Linked DNA regions of Homo sapiens. The protein of the gene in region 4 purifies or fractionates together with the protein of the main gene of each other region. This does not show direct contact. Each region holds a gene or a part of one and is shown on either strand. Other genes may lie near its edges.

Region 1 (3,500 bases), on a different chromosome or scaffold from region 4:
ACCTGAGTCCGAGCACACCTTTCACCTGCCTCCTTTTTCCAGTTATGCCCTCCCCAGCATCAGGCCACCACCGCCGGCTGAGGGGCAGCCCTCACTGCTTTGCCTCCCCTTGTGTCTTTCCCTCCCTCTTCCCCTGTCCCCCTTCTTCAGGTCTTTCATCGAGCTGTACCTATCCTTCCCTGCCCGCCTCTTTTGTCCTCTCTGCTGGGCCTCTGTGCCCTGTTCTCCAGTGCCCCCAGGTTTCTCTGTCCCCTCCTCTGTGGAGTCCTGGCTGAGTGCTGGGTGGAGCACCCGGCTGAGCTGGCCCACCTGACTGCACCCTCTTAGCCCAGCTCTGCTCCAGCGATGGTGTTGGCCAGCGTCTCCCTTCCTCTGAGGGTGGGCAGAAGCAGTGAGGGGCCTGAGGGGTTTGGACCACCAGCAGATTAATGACAACCAGAGTACGTGCTCCTCTCCTGAGTGGACACATGGGGAGCAGTGCCTACAACAGGGCATGCGTCAGTGTAGCTACGGTTAATGGTGGGTGACGTGTGTCTGTCTGGGCCTTCCAGCCCCTGTCTCCATCTCCCTGTGGCTCTCCCTGTTGGAGGGAGGCAGCATCACTCATCTGGGTCCCCCATCTTCCCAAAAACCTGCCTCAGCTTTTGCAGGAGGGAGGGATGAGGCTTCCCAGCCGCTGCTGCTGTCACCGAGATGCAGAGCTGCCAGGTGCTCACAGCCCTCCTGGTGTGGAGGACTTTGGGGGGACCCTTGGCTGCTGTTCCCCTGGACTCCATCTTTATCAGGCACCTCCTTTTGGTCAGCTGTGCCAGGTTAACCCCTGAGAAAGGAGGAAACTCATTTTAGGATGAGTCCCCTCGTAGTCTGCAGGTGAATCTCACTCCAGATTCTTTGTCACACTCATGTCCCCATGGAGAGACTGACTCCAGAGTAAAGCTGGCCTCTAAGTGGACTTCTGCAGAAAGTATCCCCTTCTCCTCCTGCCTGTGTGCAGGTGGGCACTGCCAGCTCCTGGCATCTCAGATGTGTATGGGTGGACACTGCCAGCTCCTGGGAGGATGTAGTTTGGGGACATGCTGGGTGTCAGGTGTAGACTTTGCAGGCTCCATTGGGATGACCTTGCCTTAGTTTCCACAATTGAAATGATAGAATCTGCTTAAGAGGCTGGTGGTGAGAATTAACGGGAGAGGATGCCGCCTCTAGTGGGCAGGGAGGGCTCCGTCAGGTGCCATGGCTGCCACTGTTAACATTAGCATTAAGCCCAGATGTTGCAGCCGGGCGGTAGCCAGTCTTACTGCGAGACCCACCAGTCTCCAGGGCTCCCACGGGCTAGGTGGCCGCCTGTCTCTCTACTTTGCTCATGCTGCCCTGCCATGACTGTGCTCTTTTCTCAGGTTTAGATCCCCTCCTTCAAGGTCTCACACCCGAACCTTCCAGAGGCCTTCCCATCCCAGCTCTGGGCTGTGCCACTCTCTCAGGCTGTGCCCACCCACATCAGATTCTACCTCCTTGAGGAAGACATTGGGCCACCTCCCTCCCTCACTCCCTGCAACACAGCTTGACTGTGGTGGGGGACGTCTCCAGGCTAATGGTGATCTCCCTTACTGAGCCCAGGCCAGACCCCTCACCCACATTAGTGCCTTGACCTCAGAGCCCGTGGTCATGTCCATCCTCCAGATGGGGAGACTGACCTCAGAAAAATGAAGGGACCTGCTTAAAGCCCACAACCATGAGAGGCAGGGCAGGGGAAAGGATAGATCTGTCAGACACTTGGCTGCCCAGCCAGAGGGCTGGGGACATCTGGGCAGTGGGCCCAGGAAGTGGAGGGGGGCTTGAAGCCTGAATCTCTGGGAAGAAAATGAAGAGGCCTAGGATATGAGAGCTGGGCCTGGGACTTCCAGCTGTAACTTTGCCCTGTCTGTCTCTCTTTCCTCCTCTGGGTCTCAGGCAACCCTGAGGGGCCTTCCTTGGCATGAAGCTGCCTTGCCAGCCCCAGTGCTTATAGCCCCAGTGCTGACCTCCATCTACCTCCCACGTATACACAGGCCATCATGGAGCACCCCCAGCCCAGAGCTTTCCTTCCCCCAGCTTTGAGTTATGGGCCAGGCCTGCTCTGTGTGGAGGGGTGGAGGAGAGGAGGGGCTTCATCTGGAGATGAGATGCCATTTCCTTCTCCAGATTCCAGTCTGATTCCGGAGAGAAAGGTCATGGAGGTGGGGGTGGGGCTGGGGGTTGTTCATGGAAACCTGAGGCTGGCTCCTTTAGTCCCTTGGCAGTTTTGCCAGGTCTGAGGGGACTTCACAGGGCTAGGATCTTATAGATGCTGGGGGAGCCTCATGCCATCCGGATGGGTGGGACTTGGGGGGTTTGGGAACCAGCGTTCAAGGGCTTGTTGCTAGGGAACTCTCCAAGGGGCAGCTGGAGGTTTGGGAGTCAAGGCAGGTGGGCTGAGCTCTGTCTGGCAGGGCGATGTTGCCTGTAAGATAGGAGTGGTCTTTCTCTCTCTTCCCCCTTCCAGCCACCTACCCCACTCCCGTGCGGAGATTTGCCTCCAGACCTGGTGCCTTGTGTCTTTAAGTGACTGGGCTGTGGGCCTCAGGCCTGGGGAGGACATGCTGGGGAGGACATGAGGGGCTTTCCCATTGCTGGCTACAGCCCTCCAGCCAACTGGGAAGATTCTCTTCATGTCAGGTTTTTTTTTCTTTTCTTCTTCTTCTGGTGCCTACTGTCTAAACAAGAAGCTACAGAATCAATATTCGTATTCCCCAAGGGAAGTGTGTGTGTGGTTTTTGCTTTTTTTTGCTTCCCTTCTTCTCTTGTCCTGTGGAACCTGAAGAGCTTCCAGAGCTGCCTGTGGCTAAGGGCAGAAGGGGGGCCAGTGCAGGTGACCACAGAGATTGAGATGGCCCTGCTGGCTTGCAGGTCCCCACAGGGGTCTCTTGGGGCCTCCCTAAAGGAGTCAAGATTCTGTCATTCAAATCTACATAAGGTCAGGACCTAAGGGGCAGACTCAGCCAAGCCCTGCCCTGCCACTGTGAGACTCAGGCTGTTGGCTTGGTGTCCCCGGTCCTGGTCCCGCTCCTCTCACCTGGGCCCTCACAGTGCTTTTCCTTCTGCATCTGGTCTGGACCTGCTGGGTCCCCAGCCATCACTGTTACCCGTGACTGAGCCTGGTGAGGGGAGAGCCTCACAAACCAGGAGACTGTCTAGCTGGGATTAGGTGGGGAGAATATTCACAAAGGAGTTCTGAAAGCCCCCATCTTAGGTGAGGAGGCCTCTGTCAAGGGCAAGCCCAGCCTAATCTTCTCAGTTGGGTAGCTTGCTTGGTGACCTTGGACAAAACCCCTCCTCCCCCTGGGCCTCAGTTTCCTTTCTTCCAGGATCCTTCCAACTCTGACATTCCAATGCCCTAAGAAGACAGATCTGGGGTCTTCCTGCTCCTCTCCACGCCCTGCTTTAGCTGTGGCCGCTGGGCCTTGTCTCTTCCAGTGTGAGGGTGC
Region 2 (3,500 bases), on a different chromosome or scaffold from region 4:
ACCAGCCTGATAGCAGAACACACATCACCCTGGGCCTACACTGTTCCCCTAGGTCCATTGGCTTTGCAGCTTCTGGGTCACCTGGGAACTCCGTCATCTTTGCCAAAGCCAAGCGTCATTAGCCCTTCTTCTCCCAAGTCTTCATTTCTGATTGCTGATGGGGCACCCAAGGGTACTGTGGGTACAACCCAAGGACTCCAAAAAGCTCCTTTCCTCACCTGTTGCATCTCAAAAGCACTCTCCTTGTCCACTCTTTGGGAGGGTACACCAAGCATAATTGCCTTAATGGATCAGGCTTTTGAAAAACAAAAAATCCCAAAGTATATGTCTGGAGCCATCTCCACTTCTGCCTGGCCACAAACCTCCCCTGAGACCAAAAAATCACAGAGCCTGACCGTCAGCTGCCTGAAGGAAGCTAAAGGCAAGAACAGAAGTGGAAAATAGAAGTCACTATTTCAAAGAAAGAGCCCTGTCTTACTAGTATCATGTCAACTTTATGTCTCAATAGAATACACCATATAGAGCAAGATTTGCAGAACTGCTAGCTCCTCGGTACAACTAGGTAACGTTTTAAACCAACGTCAGCCTATTCAATACATTTATAATTTAAGACAACTCATTCCTTCCAGCTAAGTGGTTAGCCTAATGTTCTTTTAAAAAGAGTATGGTGATATGTATAAGATTAATTAAACCTTTTCCTGCTGTTTCCTGTCATCTACATTTCCAGCTAATGAGGTTTCTACTAAAATTATAGTAAAATGTCACAAAGTAGTGCTTATGAAGAAAGCAGTAGCCTTATAGTCAGAGAGATTTCATGAGGAGGTTGTACTCTGTCCTGTCTCATTAGCTTGACATCTTACCAGTATCTCCACTCCTGAAGAGTGTTTCAGTGACACAAATCTGGTCCCTGCTAGATCCAGAGGCCCAGATGAAGTAGGCATGATCTTACTTATAGCATACAATTTCTAGGGTTTTCCCCTGTATACCTCCTTTGTGCAAACATTCTCTCATTTCACATGTGAATCCAACATAGTCCCACGTATTCTTTCTTTTTTGCTTCCATCTGGTCAGTCGGCAAGCAGATGTTCTTCCTAACAGCAGAGATCAGCAAACTTTTTCTGTAAAGGACCAGATAATAAATATTTTGGGCCCTCGGGGCTGTCTTGGTCACAACTACTCCACTCAGCCGGTAGCTGAAAAGCAGCCATTGTGGCTGGGTTTCTTTTTTCTTTCTTTTTTTTTTTTTTTTTTTTTGAGATGGAGTCTCGCTCTGTCGCCCAGGCTGGTGTGCAGTGACAAGATCTCAGCTCACCACAACCTCCGGCCTCCCAGGTTCAAGCAATTCTCCGGCTTTAGCCTTCCGAGTAGCTGGGATTACAGGCACGTGCCACCACGCCCGGCTAATTTTTGTATTTTTAGTAGAGAGAGGGTTTCACCATGTTGGCCAGCCTGGTCTCAAACTCCTGACCTCAGGTTATCCGGCCGTCCGGGCCTCCCGAAGTGCTGGGATTACAGGCGTGAGCCACGGCGCCCGGCCTGTGGCTGGGTTTCTAATAAATCTTTACTATGGATGCAAAATTTGAATTTCATATATTTTTCACATGTCGCGAAATATTACTCTTTTTCTGTTCAACTGTGTAAAATTGTAAAAACTGTTTTTTAAACCACGAGCCGTACAAAAACAAGCAATGACTACGTTTGGCCCATGGGCTGCAGTTTGGGCCAGTTCGTGATATTTCTCACTAATGTACAGAAAATGGTCCCCCAGGCAGCAAATAATTCACAAATCACTCCTATTTGGCTCTGGAATATACTCTGTAATTTTTTAAACAACATGCTTATTGTCCTGGTTACCTTGATTCTAGTCCAATAATAAAATTAGCACACATTCCAGATGAGCAGAGACAAAGAGGCCACTTTAAAATTAGGCCGGGCTGTGGGGGGCTTGTGCAGTGATTGCAAACCCCCCAGTGGAAGAAGGGGAGTCCTCACACAGATAATGACTAACTTCCTGTAGAAACATCAAACATTTTTACTATGCTCTTACCAAAGATTTAAATGGTGGCAATGCTAATTATGCATTCTTTCTACATTTACACATTGGCACTTTTTTTTTTTAAATCAGAAAACTCATTGCTGATTTATCTTGTTACCATGGTGATTTAAACATTTCCCTGAGCTTGAAAATACATGCCTTAGTACTTCATTAACTTCCTCAGAGATCATCAGGAAGGTAAATCTTAGGATCAAAGTGGGTTTCAAGATCATCTAATCCAAGACTCTCAATTCACAAGTGATGAAACCGAGGCCCGGGAGACTCAAACATTTTACAACCAAAATGTCTGCCATCTGTACCTATCCCAAGGTCCCTTGTTAGCAGCAGATAAATGAGGCTTGTCCAACCCAGTTCTCCTGACTGCTGCAAAATGGTCTTTGTACCTCATCACTGGGGCTCTAATCACTAGATCACCTGCCAGAGTAGTGGCTTTAATGACCTTAGAAAGGGTACATCATTCTACAACATCCTGCCCCTCCCCATCACTCTCCTATTCTTTCAGAAGAGTGTTGGAATCCACGACCTCTTCTGTAGGTACTGGAAGGGGCCCGAAGAATTCCCGCATATATCCAGAAAAGCCAGAAGTTTGGGGACCCATTCTTAAACTTCCTAGAATGTCCCCTTAGGAATGAGCATCGGCACTTGGAGGTGAAACTCTTGAAGGGTTTTTATTTAGAAATCAGATTGTCAGCATGTGGTGGCATCTTCTTAAACTTAGATAACGGGTCCAGAGTTGCCTGGCTAGTTAGTGTCAGGTTCATTAGACTAGATGCATCTCTCCTGGCTTGCCAGAGTCTCTAGGTGTGGTTGTACATTCTGAATGCACTGTTTTGAGTATTCAGCACCTGTTGTGCATGTGTCTCTGCAGCAAGCGATCCCCCTCCAAGACCATCCCAGGCCTCCCCAGACACTGCCACGTCCACTGCAAGTCCAGCTGTGACTCCAGCTGCAGATGCCTCTGACCAAGACCAGCCCACAGTAACTAATAACCCGGAGCCACGTGGGTGAACTGTGCACTCCAGTTCTCTCCAGATGAGAGAGAATCTTTTCAACAGCTGGTATTGGGAAGCTGGGGCCAGGGCATGATCCTGATAAACACCTTAAATGTCTTGTCAACTGGATGCAAATTTTGCAATTGGTGTCATTTTTTTTAAAGTCAAATTACAAGGAAGTACCCAGATCAGGCAGTGGTAATACCAAAGGTCATCAAACACATACAAGGAACATCTTGATCATAGGGCATGTGGGGAAGTTTACTGGGCCATCACAGACTTTTGTTCTAGTGATTGTATGTATTAGGAGTCATAGCATGCCCTACGGCAGATCTGGATTCTTATACACTAAGATGTGTCTTAAGAATCACAGTGCGTGCTTCATCCCTTTATTGAAGAACAGAAAATTATGACTACTCTACAAGGTGGATAATATTTTGGTACCTGTGCTT
Region 3 (4,243 bases), on a different chromosome or scaffold from region 4:
TGGCACCCATAGCTTAAGGTAAGACCCGTCCACCCAGCCTGGGGCTCAGACAATGCCCTCCCATGCCTCCCCGCCTGGTACTGGCCTTCGGACTGCCGCTCTCTTTTGGACATTGATGTTGTCCCACCACTTGGCGAAGAAGGAGACCTCTGCCCAGAGGAAGCGCCGCCGGGGGTCCTCCTGCAGCTTAGACACCATGCTATTGAGGATGTGTTGGGTCTGCTCTGTGTAGTACTTGTCAAAGGTCTTGATCCAGCCTAGGGAGCCAATGTAGGGTCCCCTGAGGATGCCACCATCTTCTTCGACGTCCCTCCCTTGTATTGGCCATCAGAAATCCCACTCCACACTCCAGCTCCCAGGAGTCTGCAGGGCCCTCACCTGGGTCATTGTGAGAGTGGGGCACCACAAACACCTGCAGGTCTTCAGCATCCCAGTCGTGCGGGTCGTAGGAGATGTCGAAGCCTTGCCTCCACACACCACCATCCACGTTGTCAAACGGCAGCTCCTCCGACACAGTGAGCATCTGCCAGGTGAACTGCAGCTCAGTACCCCAGTCGTGGCCACTGTACGTCCCTGCCAGCTCTGACTCTTACCTGCAGCTCTGGCTTCTGACCCCGGCCCCCCAAAGCAAACTGGCAGTCCTGCGGGGAGATGGAGAAGAAGCTGGGCCGGGGCTCCGGTGGCACCACCCAGGAGCCATTGACCGTGTAGTAGGGCAGCATGGCGGGCGGGCCCTCTGCGTTGGCTGTCAGCTCCAGCACGGAGTCCTTGATATGGCTGATAATCTCATGGTTCTCCTCCAAAAGCTGCTCCAGCTGCTCAATGCGGTTCTGCAGCACAGAAATTTGGCTCTGCCAAAAAACCAGAAAGCAATCACACACAGCTCCTTATGCCACAGGGAGGGTCTCTGCTTGGGGTCTACCAGCTGAGGCCTGAGTACAATTCTTCCCTCATCAGTCAAAGCCAGACCATGAGCCTAGAGGGATAGATGACACCGTTCAGATAAAGGGAGCTGTGCAGATCACCACTGAGGACTACACTCCACTTGGGTTGGGAGAACCATCACTCTCTAGCTCAGGGATGGCAAAGATTTCCTTTCACCTACCTATTCTCAACAATCGGTGTTGCCTGTGCTGAGGATTTCAGCGGGGCTTAATGGCAAAGAATGCTGCAATCAATTAGCAATGTCTGCCAAGAATTCAGGAGGGGCTGGGCGCGGTGGCCCACACCTGTAATCCCAGCACTTTGGGAGGCCAAGGTGGGTGGATCACCTGAGGTCAGGAGTTCAAGACCAGCCTGGCCAACATGGCGATACCTCGTCTCGTCTCTACTAAAAATACAAAAATTAGTCGGGCATGGTGGCAGGCTCCTGTAGTCCCAGCTACTTGGGAGGCTGAGGCAGGAGAATTGCTTGAACCTGGGAGGCGGAGGTTGCAGTGAGCCAAGATCGCGCCACTGCACTCAAGGCTGGGCGACAGAGCGAGACTCTGTCTCAAAAAAAAAAAAAAGAAAGAAAAGAATTCAGGAGAACAGAGTGACAATACTCATTGCCATTGACATTTTTTCTTCCTTCCTTCTTTTCGCCATCACTGTTTTTAGCTGAGGGTTTCTACAAAACCTGACTATTGGGAAGGAAGGCTCCTGTCCTGTACTGACATTACCCTCCAGCGGGGGGTGGGAGGGGAGGCGGCGGGGTGGGAGGTGCATACCCTGAGCCCAGGTGACTTGTATACAAAGAAATTAGCAACCAGGCACGACTCACCCGGGGGAAGTTCCCACCATTCTGGTGTCGGGTGGGATCGTGTTGCACTCGGTCCAGCATGAGGTAGAGCGAGAAGACTGCCACACAGAAGATGGCAGCCCCACACACTGTCACCTGCTTTTTCAGCTTCATACTGGCCTCCACACACACCTGGCAGGAAGGACACCATCTGTAGCTCCAACATGCAAAATGCCCGTGGCAGTCTTTCCACCAAATACCCCAGTGAGTTCCTGAGGGCTGTTCCAAAGGAACACCCATTTGCCTGGCTCCAAGTAGCACAAGCAGCACATCTGAGGCTGGCCCACCTGGTCCTGGTAGCAGCTCTGCCGCTAGGGTGGAGAGGACGCTCTCCTTTGGCTGGTGCTATGAAAAACGGGCCCAGGATAAGAGTCCCAGCTCCGACTGGAGCGCACCACACAAGCTCCTGATTACACAGCTTCCCTGCCTAGATAGGAGGTGCCTGTTCAGGCTCCTCGGCCATGTGCTTCTAGTTTCAGGTGAATAAGCTAGTCTCTATTTTGTTTGATTTAAAAGTTTAGCCAGAACCCAAAGAGACTGATAGGAAAGCCTTTCTCAGTGCCCTTTCGGGTCAAACTGGCACTCACCAGAAACAGTGCCTGGCACGATCCTTTCTCAGAAACACAGAATGAGTTTCTTTCTAATAAAGAAGAAAGATGCTTGTGTTTCTAGCATAAAGCAAGCCCTGTGTGTTCTCCCTGTTTCTCTACTGTTCACTGCAGTGGGAAACTTCCAGCCGCGGTTTGCAGAGCACTTAGGGGACCCCTAGGAAGCCTGCAGTGACGCCGAAGGCCCCCTGGGAAGGGAGAGACGGGGCCCAGTGCTCAGCTGCGAGGCAACTTCAGGGGACCCGTGCCCCCCGCCGCCACCGCCCTCGGGCTCCGCTTGCCTGCTCAGGAGGAAGGAGGACGCTAACTGCGGAGCCGAGCGTGGGCGGGACCGCGCTCCGGAGTCTGCTCCGCGGGCCCTGGGGCCGAGGAGCTTTGTCGCCTCTGCGTTGTGCCCTACTTAGCGCGATCTGATTCTGCTCGGGAGCTTCCGGGCAATATTTTCAGCCCTTAGAGACTGGGTCTAGGCCAATGTGGGTGGAGCTGGGGAGAGAGTTGGATCACAGAGGGCAGGCACCTGCCGCCAGGTCTCTGGCCGCCCGCCCGGCTCCCTCCCCACCCGCTCCGACTTCGTCGGCCCCGGGGACCGCAGAGACAGGCGCCAGGTACGGGCCTCAGGCAGCCTCCTGTCCCTTCCTGGCCCCTCTGACGCCGCAGTGGCGCTCGCACTCCCGCCGCCCGAGCCCGGCCTCTGTCGGGGCAGCCGGAGCCCTCCCGCGCGCGCACCCGGCCCGTTACCGTCAGCGCCCGGCCTCCGCGCCGCTCCGGGCCCAGTCGGCCGAGCTGCCGGCTCTCACACGCCCGGGGACGGCGGCCCGCGTGCAGGCAGCGACGCAGGCGAAGGCGGGCGCCCGCCCACCCGTAGCCCCCTGCTCCGCGCGCCGCTGCCGCGCTCCCGCTGGGCCCCGGGCCGCCGGCGCGCTCCGCTGCGCCGGCCCCGCGCGGGTCCGCCAGCCTCTGAAGCTGCCGGGCCCAGCAGCGTGCGGGGCGGGGACAGCCGCGCCGCCCGCCCCGGCCTGCGTGTGCCCGGCGGAGCTGACAGGAGCTCTGGCCGCCGCGGTCCCCGCCCGGCTCCTCCCGGGCCCGCTCCGCTGGGCTGCAGTGCGCAGCCGCACCAGCCCGGGCCGGGCCTGGCCAGCTGCGGAACCTCAGGAGGGACGCGCGACTGAATTTTTTCGGAATCCTACTTGAGTAAGCGCATGATCGGGCAGTGGTCGAAACGCCCGCCTCCGTCTCGGCAGACGCGTAGCGGGGTGCGTTCTCCGCGGCCTCACCCGGCTCCGGCCCAGGTAGCCTTAGGTCTCTGTCGTTGCGCCCCTCGGGCAAAGGGGTGCTGCCTCCTGTCGGTACAGCGCATTCCTCGAGTCCCTTTCCTTTCCGTGCCTGCTCTATGTTTCCTGCCAGCGAGTGAACAAGACACAGACTTTTCTTGGCTGTTTCCCTTTTACTGGGCATCTAGGTTGTTTACAGTTTTTCAGTGTAATCCATACTGCAATGAACATCTCCATGAATTCCACATTTTTGTTCTTTTTAAGTTATATATAACATTATCTGAATGTGACCCCCCAAATTCATGTTCAAATCCTAATCCCTCAAGGTGATGATGGTATTAGGAGATGGGCCTTTGGGGGTGAACAGAGTTTGAAGGGAGAGCTCTCATGAATGGGATTAGTGCCGGTATCAAATGACCCCGAGAGTCGGCCCCTTCAACCACGTGAGAACACAGCTAGAAGGCACTATCTGTGCACCACAGGCAGGCCCTCACCCGACACTGAATCCGCTTATGCCTTATCATGGACTTTCCAGCCTCCAGAACTGTGAGAAAATACATTTCTGTTGTTGATAAACTACCTAC
Region 4 (3,995 bases):
TCTTCTTCTTTTTTTTTTTTTTTTTGACGGAGTCTCACTCTGTCGCCCAGGCTAGAGTGCAATGGCACGATCTCGGCTCACCGCAACCTCCGCCTCCAGGGTTCAAGTGATTGTCCTGCCTCAGCCTCCCGAGTAGCTGGGACTAAAGGCATGTACCACCGCACCCGGCTAATTTTTTGTATTTAGTAGAGAAAGGGTTTCACCGTGTTAGCCACTGACCTCGTGATCTGCCGGCCTCGGCCTCCCAAAGTGCTGGGATTACAGGCGTGAGCCACCGCGTGTGGCCCCACTAATGGTTTTTTCATGACCTATCTTGTGTGCTCCTAGGTAAGATCAGATGGAGAGCAGGAGAACTACCTGAGACACTTTTGAGGGACAGGCATGTAGGAACTGGTGCAATTTGAGGTCAGAGCAAGGTAAAGGTCTCACTGTGAGAATCGAGGAAAACCCTGTGTTACTGGGGAGTGGGTTGGGGAGCTGAGAGAATCCCCCCTTCACTCTCTGTTCTCACAGGTGCATAAGAAGAGAGGCATGATGAGGTCTGAAGGCAGGGCAGGGCCGGTAGCTGAGAGAAGTAGTTTCTCTGGTCTTTCACTGAGTGTGTGGCAGCTACTGCCCGAGGTTGGGCAAGGGATGGGAGCCCTGAGAGATTCTTGAGGTGCAGAGATAGAGGCTTGCTGAGGATGAAAGTGGACAGGAAAGCTAAGAGAGGCTCCAATGCTGACCATGGCACTCTGCAAGAAGAGAAAAAATGTGTATGTAGAGGTTTCTGAGGGAAAATCGTGAGTCTGGTTTTGGATATATATTACTTTTGAAATCAAGTGTCCAAGTAGATATACCAGTTATGCAGTTGGATAATTTATTATAAGCCTGGAGTTCAAAAGGAGGTCCAAAAGGAGAATTGAAAGGGATGAGACTTGCTGAGCCCCTCCAAAGAGTGTGTGGTGAGGGAGAAGAGAAGAGGACCAGGAACTGAGCTCTGGAGCTCTCCTGTAGGAGGTGTGAAGCAAAAGATGAGGAAGAAACAAAGGAAGCCGAAGTGGTAGCTCCAGTGAGACAGGCTGAGAATCAAGTGAATGAGCCGTCCTGGAAGCCAAATGAAGAAAGTATACTGTGAAGAAGGAAGTGATTATTTGTGTCAAATGCTGCTAATAGGTCGATTAAAGTTGTAGTGAAAAATGATCATTGGATCTAGCAATGTGGAGATTATTCATAACTTTGACAAAAGTGGTGTCAATAGCATGATCGAAAAAGGGGGAGAGAGCCTGATTGGGATATATTTAAGAAACAATGAGAGCTTGATTGGGATATATTTAAGAAACAATGAGAGGAGAGGAATTGAAGACAGAGAATATGGACAACTATTCTAAGATGTTTTGCTGAAAAGTAGAGCAAAAAAGGGGAGGACAGCTGGCATCAGAAGAAAAGCAAGGAAATTCTTTTTCTTAGATCAGAAAAACAACAGCATATTTGTATGCTGATGGTAATAATTTACTAGCATCAAAATTGATGACACAGTCATGATATAGTGAACTGCAACAGGAAAATCCCCAAGTACACAGTGAAGACGGAATATACACAAATTTAAAAATTATTTGAATCTCTGAAACATCTGTTTTGATATTAACCTTTCATTCCTGCAATAGTTATTTTAAGCATGTTCTCATTTTCTCTTGTTCAGTGTTGCCAGGTTATTATAAAGTGTATTAGACTTTTTGAAAAACATTTTTTAAAATACTGTTTTTTCTCATTTGTTTCATTAATTTATATTTTGTATTTATAATTTTCCCTTTATCTTCTTTAGGTTTATTATGCTGTTTTTTTTTTCCAAAAGCCCCCAAAATGCATGCTTAGCCCAGTAAATTTTAGCCATTTTTGTATTGAAAGTTATGTTACCCATTTCTGTGTGGTTACCTGTAATATACCTTGAGCAGCACTTGTTGGTGTCTTTGCTCCTTATTAATTCACTTGTCTGAAGTTCCTTTAACTCTCCTTTCTACTCTTCAGTTGCACTTTGAAAATCATTTTTTATTCATAACCACATAAAACATAATTTATTTTGAAAAGTCTCTCATATAATTTTCATTTATTCTAGGATTATAGTTTTTCTGTTTCTTCGAATAAAACCTTCAGATTTGTCAACACCCATTTAGAGTAGCTCCTATTGATAGGATACCATCCATCTCTTTTGACCTATTAAGTGAATATAATAATAGATGCCACCGAAATTCAATCCTGTCAGATCTAACTGCCTGCATATAAATTTCCATGTCCCGCAAAGGCATCTCATTGAGGTCATGTTCTGTTGTATCCTTACTTTGTATCTTGAGGTGCTTGGTGGGGCATGGAAATTTACATGTAGGCAGTTTCATCTGACAGGATTGAATTTCAGCAGCATCCATTATTATATCCACTCACTAGGTCAAAAGACATGGATGGAATCTTATCAAGAGGACATACTGCTAAATGAGTCTCTTTTCTATTTTTCCCTATTATAATCCTAGTGAAGCTGTAAATATTAGGTTCTTGAACCCACAGGACTGATTCTAGGTTCTTGTCTGGCCAGGGATATAGCATTCTCATCTGCAGAACCTTATAGTAATGAGCTACCAACTTACCTGGGGATAAGAGAATTGAAAAAAGAAGGAGAATAAGGAGAAGCAAATGGAGTCTCATGGCTGAAGGGCCAGCATCAATGTGGGTTGAGCCTGGAGTCTCTGGGCATCGTGGGTCTAGGCCTTTTTATGATGCTCTCTGAGTCTGTGATTTGTTCTTGGTCAGTAGAGCCTAACGAAAAGAGAATAACTAAATCTCCCACGGGAAACTTCCAGGGACACATAAGTACATAAAGGTGGTGATATCTCAATGGATGAGAAAGCAGGTGAATGCTATTTATTTCCCAAAGATTCAGGATGTCTTTATTGTCACCTGCTTTCTTTATTATTTTTGACATGCATATGCAATAATCATTGATCTCACTTTATACATCTATTGTTTGCCAGGCAATATAGTAGGAACTGAAGTAAAATTGTTATACACAAAAAGTACATAATTAATGGATATAGTTTGGCAAGTTTGCACATAAGTATTATCTTGTTACCACACCAATATCCAGGTAATAATATATCCATCACCTCCAAATGTTTCCTACGTCCCTTTGTTGTGGTTGTTGTTGTTGTCAGAACCCCTAAGATCGACCCTCTTAACAAATTGTTAAATACAAAATACCTTATTGTTAACTATAAGTACTATGGTTTGGAGCCTATCTCTGTAATTGATTCATTTTTTATAGCTTTAACCCTTGAACAATAACTCCCCATATTGCTCTTTCCCCACTCAGTAAAACACCAAACTCTTTTAAAGCACATTCTATATAATCCACTTTATGAAGCTTTTCCTAACACTCTTCTATCTGTTCCCCCCCCCCACCCAAGTAAAGGGAACTACTAATATAACAATTACCTATTTTGGATTATTGCATCTTTTACAAACATTCCTTCATGAACCCATTTAACACTTATCTCCATTATCTTATTATGAAGTAAAATAAAACTTGACTTGATTTTAAAAATGAAATCACAAAAGAGCTTTGTAAAATTATGATGTACCATTGCTTATTTGTAAGAATTCAAGTTACACTAGGGGTTTTTAAAAATCTTTTGTTTTTATTTGTTGCATATTGTAAGCACAGTGTCTTTTCCAGCTATTTGCTTTGGGAAGGAAAAGTTAGAGTTACAATGAACATCATAGGCTATCTTGTCTAGTCACTTACATTACAGATGAGGAAATAAGCTGAGGGAAAGGAAGAAACTTGCCCAGGATCACCCAGTGATCTAGCGAGGAAGGCGATAGGGACAGCACTAAGGCTTGGTATTCTGAGCCTCATTCTATTTTCTCCTCTTGCCCCTTCTCTGTTTCCTCCTCTCTTCCCCAGACTTCCAGAAAAACTTTACAGTTCTGCTGCAGTGTCTACCTAAGGACATCCAGAGGAGACC

The links.
Region 1: the proteins of DEFB109B (region 4) and CACNA2D2 purify together in Homo sapiens (affinity purification with mass spectrometry; one large-scale study listed by BioGRID and IntAct). This does not show direct contact.
Region 2: the proteins of DEFB109B (region 4) and SEL1L3 purify together in Homo sapiens (affinity purification with mass spectrometry; one large-scale study listed by BioGRID and IntAct). This does not show direct contact.
Region 3: the proteins of DEFB109B (region 4) and MAN2A2 purify together in Homo sapiens (affinity purification with mass spectrometry; one large-scale study listed by BioGRID and IntAct). This does not show direct contact.

What each region holds. Positions count from the first base shown.
Region 1 is NC_000003.12:50,497,135-50,500,634, reverse strand, and holds part of CACNA2D2 (voltage-dependent calcium channel subunit alpha-2/delta-2 isoform b precursor), read left to right. Parts: intron 1-3,500. UniProt on the Homo sapiens protein: The alpha-2/delta subunit of voltage-dependent calcium channels regulates calcium current density and activation/inactivation kinetics of the calcium channel.
Region 2 is NC_000004.12:25,747,989-25,751,488, reverse strand, and holds part of SEL1L3 (protein sel-1 homolog 3), read left to right. Parts: intron 1-2,924; coding exon 2,925-3,064; 3' UTR 3,065-3,500.
Region 3 is NC_000015.10:90,901,859-90,906,101, reverse strand, and holds the start of MAN2A2 (alpha-mannosidase 2x), read right to left. Parts: upstream 2,801-4,243; 5' UTR 2,670-2,800; intron 2,577-2,669; exon of another isoform or gene 2,368-2,576; intron 1,913-2,367; 5' UTR 1,895-1,912; coding exon 1,763-1,894; intron 852-1,762; coding exon 594-851; intron 524-593; coding exon 379-523; intron 258-378; coding exon 86-257; intron 1-85.
Region 4 is NC_000008.11:7,311,527-7,315,521, reverse strand, and holds the start of DEFB109B (beta-defensin 109B precursor), read right to left. Parts: upstream 2,801-3,995; 5' UTR 2,677-2,800; coding exon 2,619-2,676; intron 1-2,618. UniProt on the Homo sapiens protein: Has antibacterial activity.